Regions from separate parts of the Homo sapiens genome. Here region 1 is linked to region 2. Evidence: fine-mapped expression QTL. Tissue or cell type: T cells. Region 2 holds a variant in brackets; the other region holds the start of a gene. All regions are shown on one strand. Distances are between the middles of the regions.

Evidence for each region. PIP is the estimated chance that this variant, and not a neighbour inherited with it, causes the effect.
Region 1: it holds the start of LENG8, and the variant in region 2 is fine-mapped to the expression of LENG8 in T cells (TOPMed, PIP 0.96).

Annotation. Positions count from the first base shown.
Region 1 is chr19:54,445,676-54,453,978 of GRCh38, reverse strand. LENG8 (leukocyte receptor cluster member 8) reads right to left here and starts at 4,780. Exons shown (of 16, transcript NM_052925.4): 1 at 4,669-4,780; 2 at 2,597-2,689; 3 at 1,712-1,886; 4 at 1,227-1,328; 5 at 323-433. The coding sequence starts at 2,634. LENG8-AS1 (LENG8 antisense RNA 1) reads left to right here and starts at 4,941. Exons shown (of 3, transcript NR_126418.1): 1 at 4,941-5,417; 2 at 5,764-5,814. RefSeq lists an enhancer at 4,123-5,030.
Region 2 is chr19:54,345,023-54,351,888 of GRCh38, reverse strand. It overlaps LAIR1 (leukocyte associated immunoglobulin like receptor 1), which reads left to right. Exons shown (of 10, transcript NM_002287.6): 10 at 1-505. Among named protein-coding and RNA genes, the nearest start is that of LILRA4, 9.3 kb to the right of the region's middle. The variant A/C (reference allele first, on the strand shown) is at 4,088.

The sequences.
Region 1 (8,303 bases), 100 kb before region 2:
ACCTGCCTCCTGTGCACTAGCCCGGCCATTCCTCCAAGCTGCACATTCAATGCAAAACCCAGCCGGTGTGTGCACGCCTGTGGGTGACCATGCTAGGGAAAAAGATGAGATGTCTTTCAACATCTCAGCCCTGGCCTTGGCTCAGCCTTAAACCCACCCCAGGTTCAAACACTATGCTCTGTCCTCCTCATTTTCAGATCAGGAGTTGCTTGGAAGGAAAAAAGCAGCTTAAGGAGTACAAGCCATTCCTCATTGACAGCTCATTCAAAAATCTACACTTCCTCTGCTTGAGCAGGGTATGGGAGCTGGGCTAGGATGTTACCTGGTTCAGAGTCCCTTGGTGTTGGGGTGCGGATGGCTGCTGGGGTGTGGCTGAGCCATAGGAGCCGGCCATCCCATACTGGGAAGGGGAGCCATAGCTCTGGTACATGCTCTGCAAAGGCGCAGGGAGGGAGGGTTTAGTGGGAGGCCTACCCTTTCCGCTTCCCCAGCCTGCTCAGGAACTACACCAGCCATGACCCTCTACCAATCCCTCACCCCTTTCTCTCTTCACTATATTAATGCACCACATCCTCTCATATATTAGGAAAAGAAAAACCTCTATCAATCCCACATCTCACTTAGCTAGTTCTCGGAAGAATATAATCAACGATACTGAGTGCCAACTCTTCTAAGCACTACGACAGAACAAAAGGAAAACCCATGCTGTAATGAAGCTTGTGCTGGAATTACATGTCCGGCTGGAGACATCAACATGTAATACATCCAGCAATAAGGATCATGAAACAATAAGATGGCAAAGAAAGGGAGAGGGACAGGCTGCGAGGCAGGAATGCTACTTTCAATCAGTGTGTCAGGTAGAGGCTCTCTGAAGGCGGCATCTGAGCAGAGACCTCCAAGAGGCGGCAACACAGGGAGCACTGCAGCCAGGGCAAAGCGAGAGCGGGCCTGGCGGGTGCGGGCATCAAGGAGGTCTCTGCTTCGATGGCCATGGCAGAATGAGCATGAGGAGAGAAGGGACCAGAACCGGGTATGTAGGACCTTGTGGCTCATGGCGGGGACCTAGGAATTTACCTCCTGGGCAAGTTAGAGGGTTTCTGAGCAGTTATCACTGCGATCTCCAGTCCATCCACCACCCAGCCCCATCCCGGCAGACTCCACTTCACCTCGCCCCGACCCAGCAGACTCCACCTCGCCCTGCCCCGCCCCACTGGCTGGGCACTCACCATGGGATAGTAGTAGCTGTAGGGGTAGGCATAGTTGTACTGCTGGTACCACTGGTAGTACTGCTGCTGCTGCAAAGCTGAGGCTTCTGCCTGGGACACGTACTGTGGAAGCAGAGGCACATGTGCCGTCAGCAGCCCAAATCCACAGGCACACGGCCCCCAAAGGGCAAGCCTGTTTACTGGTGGCCAATTGCCAAGGGATGAAACTGGGTCCATGTATCTGCAAAGTGAGCCACTGTCTCTACCATGAGACTCACGCACGTTAGAGACCAGGGGCATGGGCATGGCCTCCCTCTTCAGAACCACATCACGCCCTAATTTCCTCAAGGAAACAGAACTTTTTCCCGTTCAGATTTAGATACCCTGGAACGTCTTTTCATGTTTCCCCTCAGAGCACCCCGTCTGAATGATACAACAGGACGCCAGACTGTGTCCCTCCCACAACCTCTGGCTCAGGGTACCCCAGCCCCATGAGGCCTTCTCACCTGTGCACTGGCCACAGGCCCATTGCTGCTGGACTTGGCAGAGCCGCCGGCAGCTCCTGACTTGCTGATGCTGGCCAGGGCCTGACGGGCCTTCTCCCACTCCGGGTTCTCGTGCATCGGCGTCTCCATGCCATTCTCTCGGCCTGCCCCAGCCACCATGCTGTACTGAGAAGACCTGCAGAGAGAGAGGACATCAAGTCACACCTGTTCTCCCCACTGTACACAGGTGGGCAAGTTGGGAGGCAAATTCCAGCCCCTGGATCCCATATCTAACTGTTACTACCAGTCTAAGCCTAAGTTTTCTAATCTGTACTATGCTGATAAAGGGTTTCTGCTTCAGAGTCTGCTGGGAGGGATAAATGAGATCACCTACTTAAGGTACTTATCCCAGAGCCTGGCACACAGCAGTTGTTAAAACCAAACAAACAAAACAATTAACAGAACCCACAGAACTGAACACAGGCCTTGGCACCTCCTAGGGCTATGTCTTTCATGAATCAATGAATTCTGTCTGACATCACCCCAGTCGGCAGGTTATCACACTATTTTGAGAAAAAATAAGGAATCAGCAGAAAAACAAATAAATGACTGTGTATTGAGTGTTGGGAAGCTGCCTCCTAATTACACTTGCTTGAATGAATCATCACAATTCTGCAAAGCAAGCGCTGTACTGTGAAAAACGAAAGCTCAGAGAGGTGAAAGCTTGCCCCTCTCCACACCACAACCAAATGCTTCCCTCTGTGTTTGCCTCACCACCACCCCCACCCACAGGGATTGTGGCATCACCTCCCCTAAGGCCACGGGAGGTCCCACCCCAGAGGACAGCACTGGGTCTTGCTTCCTCTTTCCCTCCCGACTGGCCTCCATCCCTCTCGCCTCACTAACCAATCTGTGCTACGTTGATCACCCACGTTGGCCGCCATCTGGACCTTGGGGTATAAGGGGTGGACCTCGGGAGCCAGACTGCTTTTTCACTGTCTATGAGAAAAAGAATGAGTTAGGGAGACTTAAGGGGGAGCTAAAAACACGTCACAAAGTGGGGAAGAAAAGTAGATGGACTCAAGAGAAGCCGGGCAGAAAAGGGGAGGCTGACTGAAAAGCCACTGGGGTCAAGGATCTGAAGAGTTCTGGGTGTGGACTAGAAAGGCTGGAGTGAGGGGAAGCCCCTGGCCCCTTTGTAGAGCTCCAGGTGGAAAACGAAGGATTTGGAAACAGGGAAGCCAGAGCAGACTTCCCAAAGGGAAGGAGAAGGGTCTGAAACCCATGTGAGCAAAGAGAGGCTGTGATGAAAGGTCCAGAGGGTAGGGGTGCCTCCATCAAGGGGAAAAGGTCTACAAAAAATTCTAGGGGCCAGGCGCGGTGGCTCACGCCTGTAATCCCAGCACTTTGAGAGGCCAAGGCGGGCAGGTCACCTGAGGTCGGGAGTTCGAGACCAGCCTAACCAACATGGAGTAACCACGTCTCTACTAAAAATACCAAATTAGCTGGGCATGGTGGCATATGCCTGTAATCCCAGCTACTAGGGAGGCCGAGGCAGGAGAATCGCTTGAACACGGGAGGCGGAGGGCGGTAAGCTGAGACTGCGCCATTGCTCTCCAGCCTGGGCAACAAGAGCGAAACTCTGTCTCAAAAAAAAAAAAAAAAAAAAAGCTAGGGAGTACGGGTTGTGAAAGGAACCTGAACCAAGAGGATGGATGCTATAATGAGAAGAGTCTGAGGGAACCCTTAAGGCTGAGAGGGTGGAAAGGTTTCCGAGAACTCTGTGAAAAGGGAGGCCTTTCAGGGAGCATCGAGGGGGCTGGAAGAATATTGGAGAAGAGAAGAAAATTTTGAGAGGAAAAGGGGATTTTCCGGAAGTTAACCCTGGAAGCAAGTGGTCGTTGAGCGTTCCTGAGAATGCCAACGTGAACCCCAACGTGAAGAAATGGGTTCTTAGCACTGACAGACTGATTTCAAAAAGGTCTCCGAAGGGCAGTAAAGAGACCTACGTGGGAGTCCTCAGTGGGACTACCCCTGCCTGCTTCCACGGGAGGTTCCCGGAAGCAGGGGTAGGGCTGGGAGAGAAAAGGGATCACCGTGGTTGGGTGTCTGGACATAAAGCTTTGGGAATGCCAAAGAAGACCCAAAACATGTTCAACGAATTAAGAGTGGGGTACAGAGAGAATTGGAAGAAAAGTGGAGTGTCTCCGGAGCAAGGATTCAGGAGCCTAAACTCCCGAGAGGGAGTAACTGATAAGTAGGATAATTAATCCCGCAGGAGAACCGGAATTCCCACGAGTTGACGGGATAGGAACGGGAGTCTGGAGCTGGGGAAAAGCCCTAGAAACGCAAAGGCTTAACTTAAACAGGACACAGGGCGTGGGTGGAGACGAGGGATCGTGGCGGGGACACAGGAAGAGGAGCCCCAGGGCAGAAGGGAGATTAGAGGTAAGGTCAGGAGTTGGGGGCTGGACAGAGGACTCCCGGACGGGTCTCAAGAACAGAGACAGGCATCAGACGCGAGGCCTGAGGTCCCGGGAGCACCTGGCCGTCCCGCAGGCTGGGCGAAGGCAAAGGAGGACGCCGGGTGGAGGAGGCCGCTCGGATCCCCACGACTAGCCACGGAGCCACTGCCCAGGCCGCGCCTGCGCACCACGCCCCAGAAAGACGCGCAGGAGCCGCCCGTCGCCCGGGGCAACACCCGGTCAACGGCGAGTGAGGGGCGCCCCGGGGCCCCGAGAACTCCAAGGGAGAGGAACGGAAATTAGAAGACGACGGCGCACGCGCGCTAGTGCCCGAACGCGCGGCCCCAGGCCCGGTGCGCAGGCGCAGTGGCTGCCCCTGCGCCGCCACACCCTGTCGACGCTCGCGCGCGGCGTCTGCTGCTGCGACGGCCGAGAAGGCCTCGGGGCTCGCGGGGCGCAAGACCAAAAGGAGATGCTATCCCCGCCCGCCTGCTCGCCTGCCGCTCCCCTTACCAACCAGGATCCTTCGCTGCAGGGACACGCCAACAACCACCCAGGCGATCAGCAACACGGCCACGACACCGCTGTGCCACCCGGCTGGCTCTGGTCTTCTTTGGCTTCGACGTCCTGACCGCGGCGTCCTGACGTCACGCGGCGGCCTTGCACCGCCTCCCTCGGCCCTGCACAGCCAATGAACGCCACGAGCTGCGCTTGAGCCCGCCTTCCTGCCCACGCACTTACGCATGAACATTTTAAGGCAGACCGGAAGTCTGGGTGGGGACGGTGGCCCCGAGGAGACAAGCGTGGCCGCATTAGCTCTTTCTGCCTCCCACGCAGCCTTATTTTTTTTATTGTTGTTTTCTTGTTGCTGTTGTTGTTGTTCTCGGAGACGGAGTCTTGCTCTTGCTCTGTCGTCGCCCACGATAGAGTACAGTGGCGTGATCTCTGCTCACTGCAACCTCCGCCTCCTGGGTTCAAACAATTCTGCCTCAGCCTCCGGAGTAGCTGGGATTACAGGCGCGCGCCACTATGCCCGGCTAATTTTTGTGTTTTTAGTAAAGACGGGGTTTCACCATGTCGGCCAGGCTGTTCTCGAACTCCTGACCTCGTGATCCCTCCGTCTCGGCTTCCCAAAGTGCTGGGATTACGGGCGTGAGCCACCGTGCCCGGCCGCAGCCTTGTTTTGACTGAGTCAGTGGGAGCCATTACTGTTCCTAAATGTAAACTGGCGTGACAGGAGTTCCGGGATTGTCCACAGCACGGTGATGTGGAAGCCCTGGGGAGAGAATGATAAAGAAAGGGGATGAGGAACAGCTCCACCCGGAAGAGCGGGCTTCCCTAGCAAATGAATCTGGAAGGGCGCAGGGGAGGGGGCACGGCGAGTTCAGATGGACCGAGGCTGGAAGCTGACGCGGTTGGAGGGGGATGGGTGTAGCTGTTGGCAGTGGCGCTGGGGTGGAAGTGTGTGGGGTCACAGATGTGTAAGGGTGGGCGCGGAGCAGACCCCCGAAGGTCCCTGAGGTCAGGCTGAGGCATTGGACCAAATCCGTACATAGGCATTTCTCTGAACTGCGCGCCACCTTTTGAGTGCCATCTGTTTCCGTCCAGGACTCTGATACAACTATCCAGTCCGCTGCAGGGACCGGTCACTGTGTCACAGTAAGTGGTGGGATTTAAGAGGCAGTTTTCCTCCTCATGTTCTACCATTATGAACGTCTAGCTTGAAAAATACATACCATTTTCATAACTACGTATTATTTTGTTAGTGCTAGCATAGTAGATCTTTTTCCGTTATTTTACTCTGTGGGGGGGGGGGGGTTTGTTTTGTTTTTGTTTTTGTTTTCTTTTTGGTACTAAGCTTTTTGTTCTGGAATAATTTTGGATTTATTCAAAACGTTGCAAAGACCGGGCGCGCTGGCTCACGCCTGTAATCCCAACACTTTGGGAGGCCGAGATGGGTGGATCACCTGGGGTCAGGAGTTCAAGATCAGCCTGGCCAACATGGTGAAGTCCCGTCTCTACTAAAAATACAGAAATTAGCTGGGCGTGGTGGCGCGTGCACCTGTAATCCCGGCTACTCGGGAGGCTGAGGCAGGAGAATCGCTTGAACCCAGGAGGCCAAGGTTGCAGTGAGCCGAGGTTACACCATTGCACTCCAGCCTGGGCAACAAGAGTGAAATTCTTGTCTCAAAAAAAAAAAAAAGAAAAGTTGCAAAGATCATAAGCAGTCCACCATGTTTTATGCCCACTTTCTTCTGATGCTGTCATCACAAGCACCAACAAAAGTGGTTTGTTGTAGATACTGACATGATGCATTACTGTAACTAAAACCCAGACTTTACTGGGATTTCACCACCTTTTCCTCCAATGTTTTCTTTACATGCCAGGGTACAAGCCAGGACCCACGTTCCATTTAGCTTCCTTTTACCTGTTGTATTTAGGGTGGGTTTCTTGTAGATAGCATGTAGTTGGATCTTGCTTTTTTTTGCCCAAGCGAACAGTCTCTGCCTTTTAAAAGAGGTGTTTATAACTGTACTTTTATTTTTTATGTCTTATTCTTTAGCATTCTGTACACAGATACAGCGATAAAATGAAATGACTGGAACTTAAATGTGAAAACTCTTTACAAGTAAGCCCACAATTAGATACATTTATCTTACATGTCAGGGAAAAAAATTATGTAAACAGGACAAATTATATCACAAAAGAATCCCAAAGTAGAAAAAATACCTAAGAAATGTGTCTAACCATGAAAAGTACTGTTCTCTTGGTGTCTTCACATCGTGTCTTCTGTGTACTTAAGTACAAAACATTGTTGCCTCTGATTAATGCACCCTGTACTTATTTTTCTGTTGTCCAGTTACATATTTGGTTGGTTCCAGGGCTATGTTCATGTAGCCATCCAGGCAAACCAGCACCCCTCCCTTAATCCACTTCAGAATTTTACCCCAACTGTCTGATGATGTGCTCTAAGAAGTCACTAGGGGATTGCTTTTCTTAAAAAATCTATTATTATTATTATTTTTTGAGACGGCTCTGTCGCCCAGGCTGGAGTGCAGTAGCACGATCTCAGCTCACTGCAACCTTTGCCTCCCAGGTTCAAGCAATTCTCTTTACAGGCGTGCACCACCACACCCAGCTAATTTTTGTATTTTTAGTGAAGACAGGGTTTCACAGTATCTGGAATTCCGGACCTCAGGTGACCCGCCCGCCTCTGCCTCCCAAAGTGCCGGGATTACAGGCATGAGCCACTGCGCCTGGCCAGTAGGGGGTTGCTTCTGAAAACTTATTTTAATAATCTTGGGTAGGCCAGGCGCGGTGGCTCATGCGTGTGATCCTAGCACTTTGGGAGGCCGAGGCGTGTGGATCACCTGAGGTCAGGAGTTCAAGACCAGCCTGGCCAACATGGCGAAACCCCGTCTCTACTAAAAATACAGAAAAATTAGCCGGGCATGGTGGCGCATGCCTGTAATCCCAGTTACTCATGAGGCTGAGGCAGGAGAATCGCTAGAACCCTGGGGGTGGAGGTTGCAGTGAGCCCAGATCATGCCATTGCACTCCAGCCTGGGAGACAGAGCGAAACTCTGTTTCAAAAAATAATAATCTTGGGGGGCAGGAAACCTAAGTCATAATCCCGGCTCTTTTACTTAACCAGCCGTATGACTTGGAAAACTCGTTTCCCTTCTCTCGGCTCCAGATTCCTCATCTTGCAGCTGGGATCCAGAGCTCTCACTCCAGGAGCCCAGTCACAGCAAAAACCAAAACTGTACTTTTTTTTTTTTTTTGAGACAGGGTTTCTCATTCTGTCACCCAGGCTGGAGTGCAATGATGTGATCTCTGTCTCAGCCCACAGCAGCTTCAACCTCCCAGGCTCAAGTGATCCTCCTGCCTCAGCTACGCAGTGTATGGTATTTTGTTACAACAACCAGAATGTAGTAAGACATTTATTGAAGGATATCTTGGTTCCTTCCAAGTTTTTGGCAGTGATAAAGAAAGCTGCCATAAACGTGCACGTGCAGATTTCTTTGTGGGCAGAAGTTTTCAACCCATCTGTGTAAATACTGGGGAGCAGTGTTGCTGGTTCATATTCTAAGAGTATGTTTAGGATTATGAGAGACCACCACACTGTCCTCCAAAGTAGCTGTACC
Region 2 (6,866 bases):
TTTTTTTAACTTTTTTTTACCTTTTAGTGTAAAACTGAACATAGAAAATAAATTCATGAAGAAGGGATATTTTCTGAGGGTGTCCAGGGCTGCCCAACACCTCGTCTACCTTCTCTGTCATAGCCCCATTTAAAACACTCTCTCTGGATGAATACACCAAACCTCACAGTCTTTGCTCTCTTGCTAGGAAGAGGAGCAAGAGCGTGTTTCACTCTTGGCTCCTGCTTACACACCTGCTGTCCAATGGAAACTACTACTTAAGACATTTAAAAATAGTTGTGGTGATAGCATGTTGTGTTTTGGTTGGTGATGCCAGTTAGTCTCTGAAAACTTTCTGTGATGAGTGTAAAATTCTACACCTTAATCTCCTTTCTTGTAGGATCTGGGAAGCAGTATGCACTTGATTGCACCAAAGATTTTACGTTCATAGAAAATTTCTGGCATCTGTGTGAAGAAAGTAAACTATATCTTCCATTTAGACAAATAAAATATCTTTTTGATAAAAGGTGACTATATGTTTAAGGCTTAGGGAGAAGAAAGAATCAAGGAATATAAATGTGTTGATGTCTAAATGCAATTCTGACACTTAACCAGAGTTAAAAGTGCTTTGAGAGTCCCCAGAGCTCTGCACCTGCTCTACATCTACTGGGATTTAGAGCTAAAGCTTCCTGAAACCGTTGTTCTGCTTGGTCCTTCAGCAGTGACAACCTGTTCTGTTCCAATTGCTAAGATCTGAGTTGTGAGAGCTGCGGGATGGGAATTTTCCTGTTGCCGTTCCAAGAAGTAAAATGTGCCTCATTTAGTCCTAAATTGTACCTCCATAAAAATCACTTTGGGCCGGGCGCAGTGGCTCACGCCTGTAATCCCAGCACTTTGGCAGGCTGAGGCGGGCGGATCACGAGGTCAGGAGATCGAGACCATCCTGGCTAACACGGTGAAACCCCGTCTATACTAAGAATACAAAAAAATTAGCCGGGCGTGGTGGCAGGTGCCTGTAGTCCCAGCTACTCGGGAGGCTGAGGCAGGAGAATGGCGTGAACCCAGGAAGTGGAGCTTGCAGTGAGCTGAGATCGAGCCACTGCACTCCAGCCTGGGTGTGACAGAGCGAGACTCTGTCTCTAAAAAATAAATAAATAAATAAATAAATAAATAAATAAATAATAAATCACTTTGATAAAGAAAGGACAAGGTCTTTATTTTTTCATGAATTATTGCCGTTATTTAAGGGCATACAGAGCCATCATCACAGCTGGTCTAGGATTCACAGATATTTTCTTGTTGCCTTTATTTACCATCCAGCTCAATTTATTTAGTACACTATATATATTCATTTCTGAAATTGCTTTCTGCTTTTACAGACCCCTCCTCCTTCTCCTATTTGGATTTATTGATTGATCTCCAGAACAAAGTTGCTAAATTTATTACATTTGTTGTGATAAAACATTTTCTTCGCAACAAAAGAAAAAGATTTGTGCACATATACTACGTGAAATGCGTGTTATTTTCTCATTCTTCCACCTTCTCCCCATCCTCTATAACACTGGGGCCAAACTGCTATTGATTATTGTACATTCTTTCGGAAATGTCTTTGATTTTTCTAAAGCATCTTTTTCTTTTAACTAATCTGTACTTTACCAAGATTCTAATTTCCCAAATTTTCATACCAGTTAAATCACATCATAACTTAATAAGTTGTTCATTATTAAAGAAATACAATGTTTTTCAACAATAAAGACAGTCCTATTTTTGATGAATCCTAATTTGAATTCTTTAAAAACCATTTACATTTCAGATCATTATAAAATTTTCGTTAAATTAAACATGACTAAGAAAGCCGGCCAGGCGCGGTGGCTCACGCCTGTAATCCCAGCACTTTGGGAGACTGAGGCGGGCGGATCACGAGGTCAGGAGTTTGAGACCAGCCTGGCCAACATGGTGAAACCCCATCTCTATTAAAAAGACAAAAATTAGCCGGGCGTGGTGTCCTCCCTCCATGCATCCTCAGGATCTGTGTCCTCCCTCCATCCATCCTCAGGATCTGCGTCCTCCATCCATCCACCCTCAGGGTCTGTGTGCTCCCTCCATGCATCCTCAGGATCTGTGTCCTCCCTCCATCCATCCTCAGGATCTGTGTCCTCCCTCCATCCACCCTCAGGATCTGTGTCCTCCCTCCATGCATCCTCAGGATCTGTGTCCTCCCTCCATCCATCCTCAGGATCTGCGTCCTCCCTCCATCCATCCTCAGGATCTGCGTCCTCCCTCCATCCACCCTCAGGATCTGCGTCCTCCCTCCATCCATCCTCAGGATCTGCGTCCTCCCTCCATCCATCCTCAGGATCTGTGTCCTCCCTCCATCCATCCTCAGGATCTGTGTCCTCCCTCCATCCGTCCACCCTCAGGATCTGCATCCTCCCTCCATCCATCCTCAGGATCTGCGTCCTCCATCCATCCACCCTCAGGATCTGCGTCCTCCCTCCATCCACCCTCAGGATCTACGTCCTCCCTCCATCCATCCTCAGGATCTGTGTCCTCCCTCCACGCATCCTCAGGATCTGTGTCCTCCCTCCATCCACCCTCAGGATCTGTGTCCTCCCTTCATCCATCCTCAGGATCTGTGTCCTCCCTCCATCCACCCTCAGGATCTGTGTCCTCCCTCCATCCATCCACCCTCAGGATCTGTGTCCTCCATCCATCCATCCACCCTCAGGATCTGTTTCCTCCCTCCATCCATCCTCAGGATCTGTGTCCTCCCTCCATGCATCCTCAGGATCTGTGTCCTCCCTCCATCCATCCTCAGGATCTGTGTCCTCTCTCCATCCACCCTCAGCGCCCTCTTTCAGAAGATCTGCCCAGAGCATTCTGGTCTTCTTGATGGCCTGGTCTCTCGGTGGGAGAAGCTCTTCCTGGCTATGTGTGGTCAGCCATTGTGGTCCTTTTCTGGTCTTTGAATGTTTCTATAACAGCACTTATAATCATTTGCAGTAACATACAGTTGAGCTTTGAACTCCACAGGTTTGAACTGTGCAGGTCCACTTGTATACAGATTTTCTTTCAATCATAGTTACACGAGTGTGCCTGCCTTTCCTGCTTCCCCTCCCACCTGTTTTACCGCATTTTCTTTTTCTTTAGGTTTTATCTTTAAGTTTATGAGTTATATTTAAAAATATTTTTGCATCATATCTATTCAAGAAAATACACTTATATTTCTAAACCAAAACAAGAAACAAGACACAATTATATCCGTCTAATTTTATTTAATCTCTTCTGCATGGTTTCTCTCTCTCACACAAGTATCCACTTTTAAAGGTTTAGGTCAGGCATGGTGGCTCACGCCTGTAATCCCAGCACTTTGGGAGGCCAAGGCGAGCAGATCACCTGAAGTCAGGAGTCCAAGACCAGCCTGGCCAACATGGTGAAACCCTGTCTCTACTAAAAATTTAAAAAAAAAGAAAATTGGCCAGTGTGGTGGTTGTCAGGCCTCTGAGCTGAAGCTCAGCTATTGTAACCCCTGTGACCTGCACATATACACCCAGATGGCCTGAAGGAGCCAAGAAGTCTGGGGCAGCCGAAAAACCACAAAAGAAGTAAAACAGCCAGTTCCTGCCTTAACTGATTAACCAACATTACGACATTCCACCATTGTGACTTGTCCCTGCCCCACCTTAACCGATCAATCAACTTTGTGACATTCTTCTTCTGGATAATAAGTCTTACGATGTCCCCACCAGGTACCTTGTGACCTCCTCCTCTGCCAACAATAGATGACCACCTTTTACCGTAATTTTCCATCACCTACCCAACTCCTATAAAGCAACCCCTTCCCCATCTCCCTTCGCTGACTCCTTTCTCAGACTCAGTCCACCTGCACCCAGGTGAATTAAAAGCTTTATTGCTCATACAAAGCCTGTTTGCTGGTCTCTTCACATGGACACGCTTGGCAGTGGTGCATGCCTGTAATCCCAGCTACCCAGGAGGCTGAGGCAGGAGAATCGCTTGAACCCAAGAAGTCAAGGTTGCAGTGAGCAGAGATCGTGCCATTGCACTCCAGCCTGGGTGACAGCATGAGACGCTGTCAGGAAAAAAAAAA[A/C]CAAAAAACAAAACAAAAAAACTTGACGGGAGGGTTAATTACCATCTTCCTACAACGAGGAAAATGGATGGGGCAGGGGAGGATGTCACCTGCTGAAGGTCAACTGACAGTAAGTATGAACCCTCATGCCTTAAACCAAAGCTTGGGAATTTCTTCCAGTGAATGCTTTGGCCCAAAGCATGGAGACAGAATTCACGGTATCAAATGAAGAGTTATGGACAGGGGAAGAAGAGGTTGTAAATGACTTGGAGATTTGATGGAGTTCCCACTTATAAGTGAGAACATGTGGTATTTGGTTTTCTGTTCCTGTGTTTGTTTACTAAGGATAATGACCTCCAGCTCCATTCACATCTCTGCAACAGACATGATCGCGTTCTGGTGCTGCTACTTATAGAATTAAGAAAGTCGGAGGGAAGAAGTGCTTGGGAGAAACAAAACTAGACAGCAGGGCCAGGAGGGAGACAGTGCTTCCTCTGCACTCCGTGAACAGCCTTATAAATATCTCCCTAGCCTGGTTCTTCCCCGGGATCATTCATCCTGGGATGACACCATTCGTTCCTCCAGTAAACTAAGGCAGAGAGTGAAACAGACCCTAGTTGCTCACTCACTTTTGTTTCACATACAGTGAACAAATCCAAGCAGTTGTACCCTTGAGCCCTCCTCACCCACGTCCCCGGGTCCATTCCCACAGTGCAAGCTCACTGGAGACTGAAGACAGCCTGTCTGTGCCACCACATCAGCCTCCTCCTGGTCCTCTTCTCCAAACCCTCACTCCAGGCTGACATCTATTATTCTCATAGCCCCAACCTTATCTGTAGCTGACTCTTCCCTGATCAAAATCCTTCTCCGGGTCTGAATCTTCCTCCAAGTAAGACACAAGTATCTCTGCCTGATGTTCATGTTGTTGATGACCAGGACTAAGTTAACATCCCCAGCGCCAAAAAACATGGCTCCTTCCTACAGAGCAAATTCATTACAGGAAACCACTTCCGCCTTTTTCCCACCCACCACACCCCAGACAGACACCTGGAGATATTAACATATTTCTGCCTTCTCATAGTCAGCTCCCCGAGAAAATTTTTATTTTTTTATGTTTTAATTATTTATTTATTTATTTATTTATTTGAGACGGAGTCTTGCTCTGTCTACCAGGCTGGAGTGCAGTGGCGCGATCTCGGCTCACTGCAGCCTCCACCTCCAGGGTTCAAGAGATCTGCCATCTCAGCCTCTAGAGTAGCTGGGATTACAGCCCTGCACCATCACGCCCGGCTAATTTTTTTTTATTTTTGGTAGAGACAGGGTTTTCCCATGTTGACCAGGCTGGTCTTGAACTCCTGACCTCAGAGGATGTGCCTGCCTCGGCCTCCCAAAGTGCTGGGATTCCAGGCGTGAGACACCGCACCCGGCCTATTCTTGTTTTCAAAATCTCGCTCATTTCTGAACTTCTGTGCCAGTGACTTCCTAGGCGAGGAAATGCCCGATGTACCTTTTCTTGGACTCCAGTCCACTCCAGACATTTTGTCTCCACCAGTAACTGTGGCCATTGTGTGGAGGAAGGAACAAAAGCAAGAAAGCGATTTTCTGAGCAGGTTTCTATGAGCACCAGGTTCTCACCCTGGTAGGGGCAACTACAGGACCCGAAAGTTAATCTCCCCTGGGTATGACACCCACTGTGCTACTTTCCTCCCCAAGGAAATATAGCTCCCCAGCTGAACCACCACGTGGGTTTGGGGATGTGAAAAAGGGAAATGAAAGAGAAGGCATATTTATGATTTCAACCACACTGGGAACTCATGGAAGCTGCTGTAGACAACTCAAGCATGAGAGGCCAGGCTAAATTTGGAGAAAAAAGAGATACACAACTCCCATTTTTAGAATCCAAGAGGCCTGGAGTTTGTATTATTATTATTTTATTTTTAGCAGCAACACTTATATGGAAAGTACTTGGACACCTTGAGGTCTGCGTGAAAGTTGACTCCAATTGTGATGAGTACGGAAGCTCCTATCTCAGGATTCTCATTTTAGGGAAAATCACTGCTGGTCTGGATTTGTTTTTGTGTGTTTTTTTGGTTTTTTTTTTGTTTGTTTGTTTGTTTTTGAGACGGGGTCTTGCTCTGTCGCCCAGGCTGGAGTGCAGTGGCGCGATCTCGGCTCACTGCAAGCTCTGCCTCCTGGGTTCATGCCATTCTCCTACCTCAGCCTCCCGAGTAGCTGGGACTACAGGCACCAGCCACCACGCCCGGCTAATTTTTTGTATTTTTAGTAGAGACGGGGTTTCCCTGTGTTAGCCAGGATGGTCTCGATCCCCTGACCTTGTGATCCGCCCGCCTCGGCCTCCCAAGTTGCTGGGATTACAGGCACGAGACACCGCGCCCAGCCTCTGGTCTGAATTTAACTCCGGACAGCTCTTTCTTTCTTTTTTTTTTTCTTTCTTTCTTTTTTTTTTTTTTGAGACAGAGTCTCGCTCTGTCACCCAGGTTGGAATGCAGTGGCGCGATCTCGGCTCACTGCAAACTCCGCTTCCTGAGCTCAAGCAATTATCTCCCTCAGCCTCCCCAGAAGCTGGGATTACAGGTGCCCGCCACCACGCCTGGCTACTTTTCATATTTTTAGGAGAGACGGGGTTTCACCTTCTTGGCCAGGCTGGTCTTGAACTCCTGACCTCATGATCCACCTGCCTCGGCCTCCCCAAGTGCTGGGATTACAGGCGTGAGCCACCGCACCCGACCACGGACAGCTCTTTCTAACCAGAATCATCACCTGGACTTCTGAGGCTTGA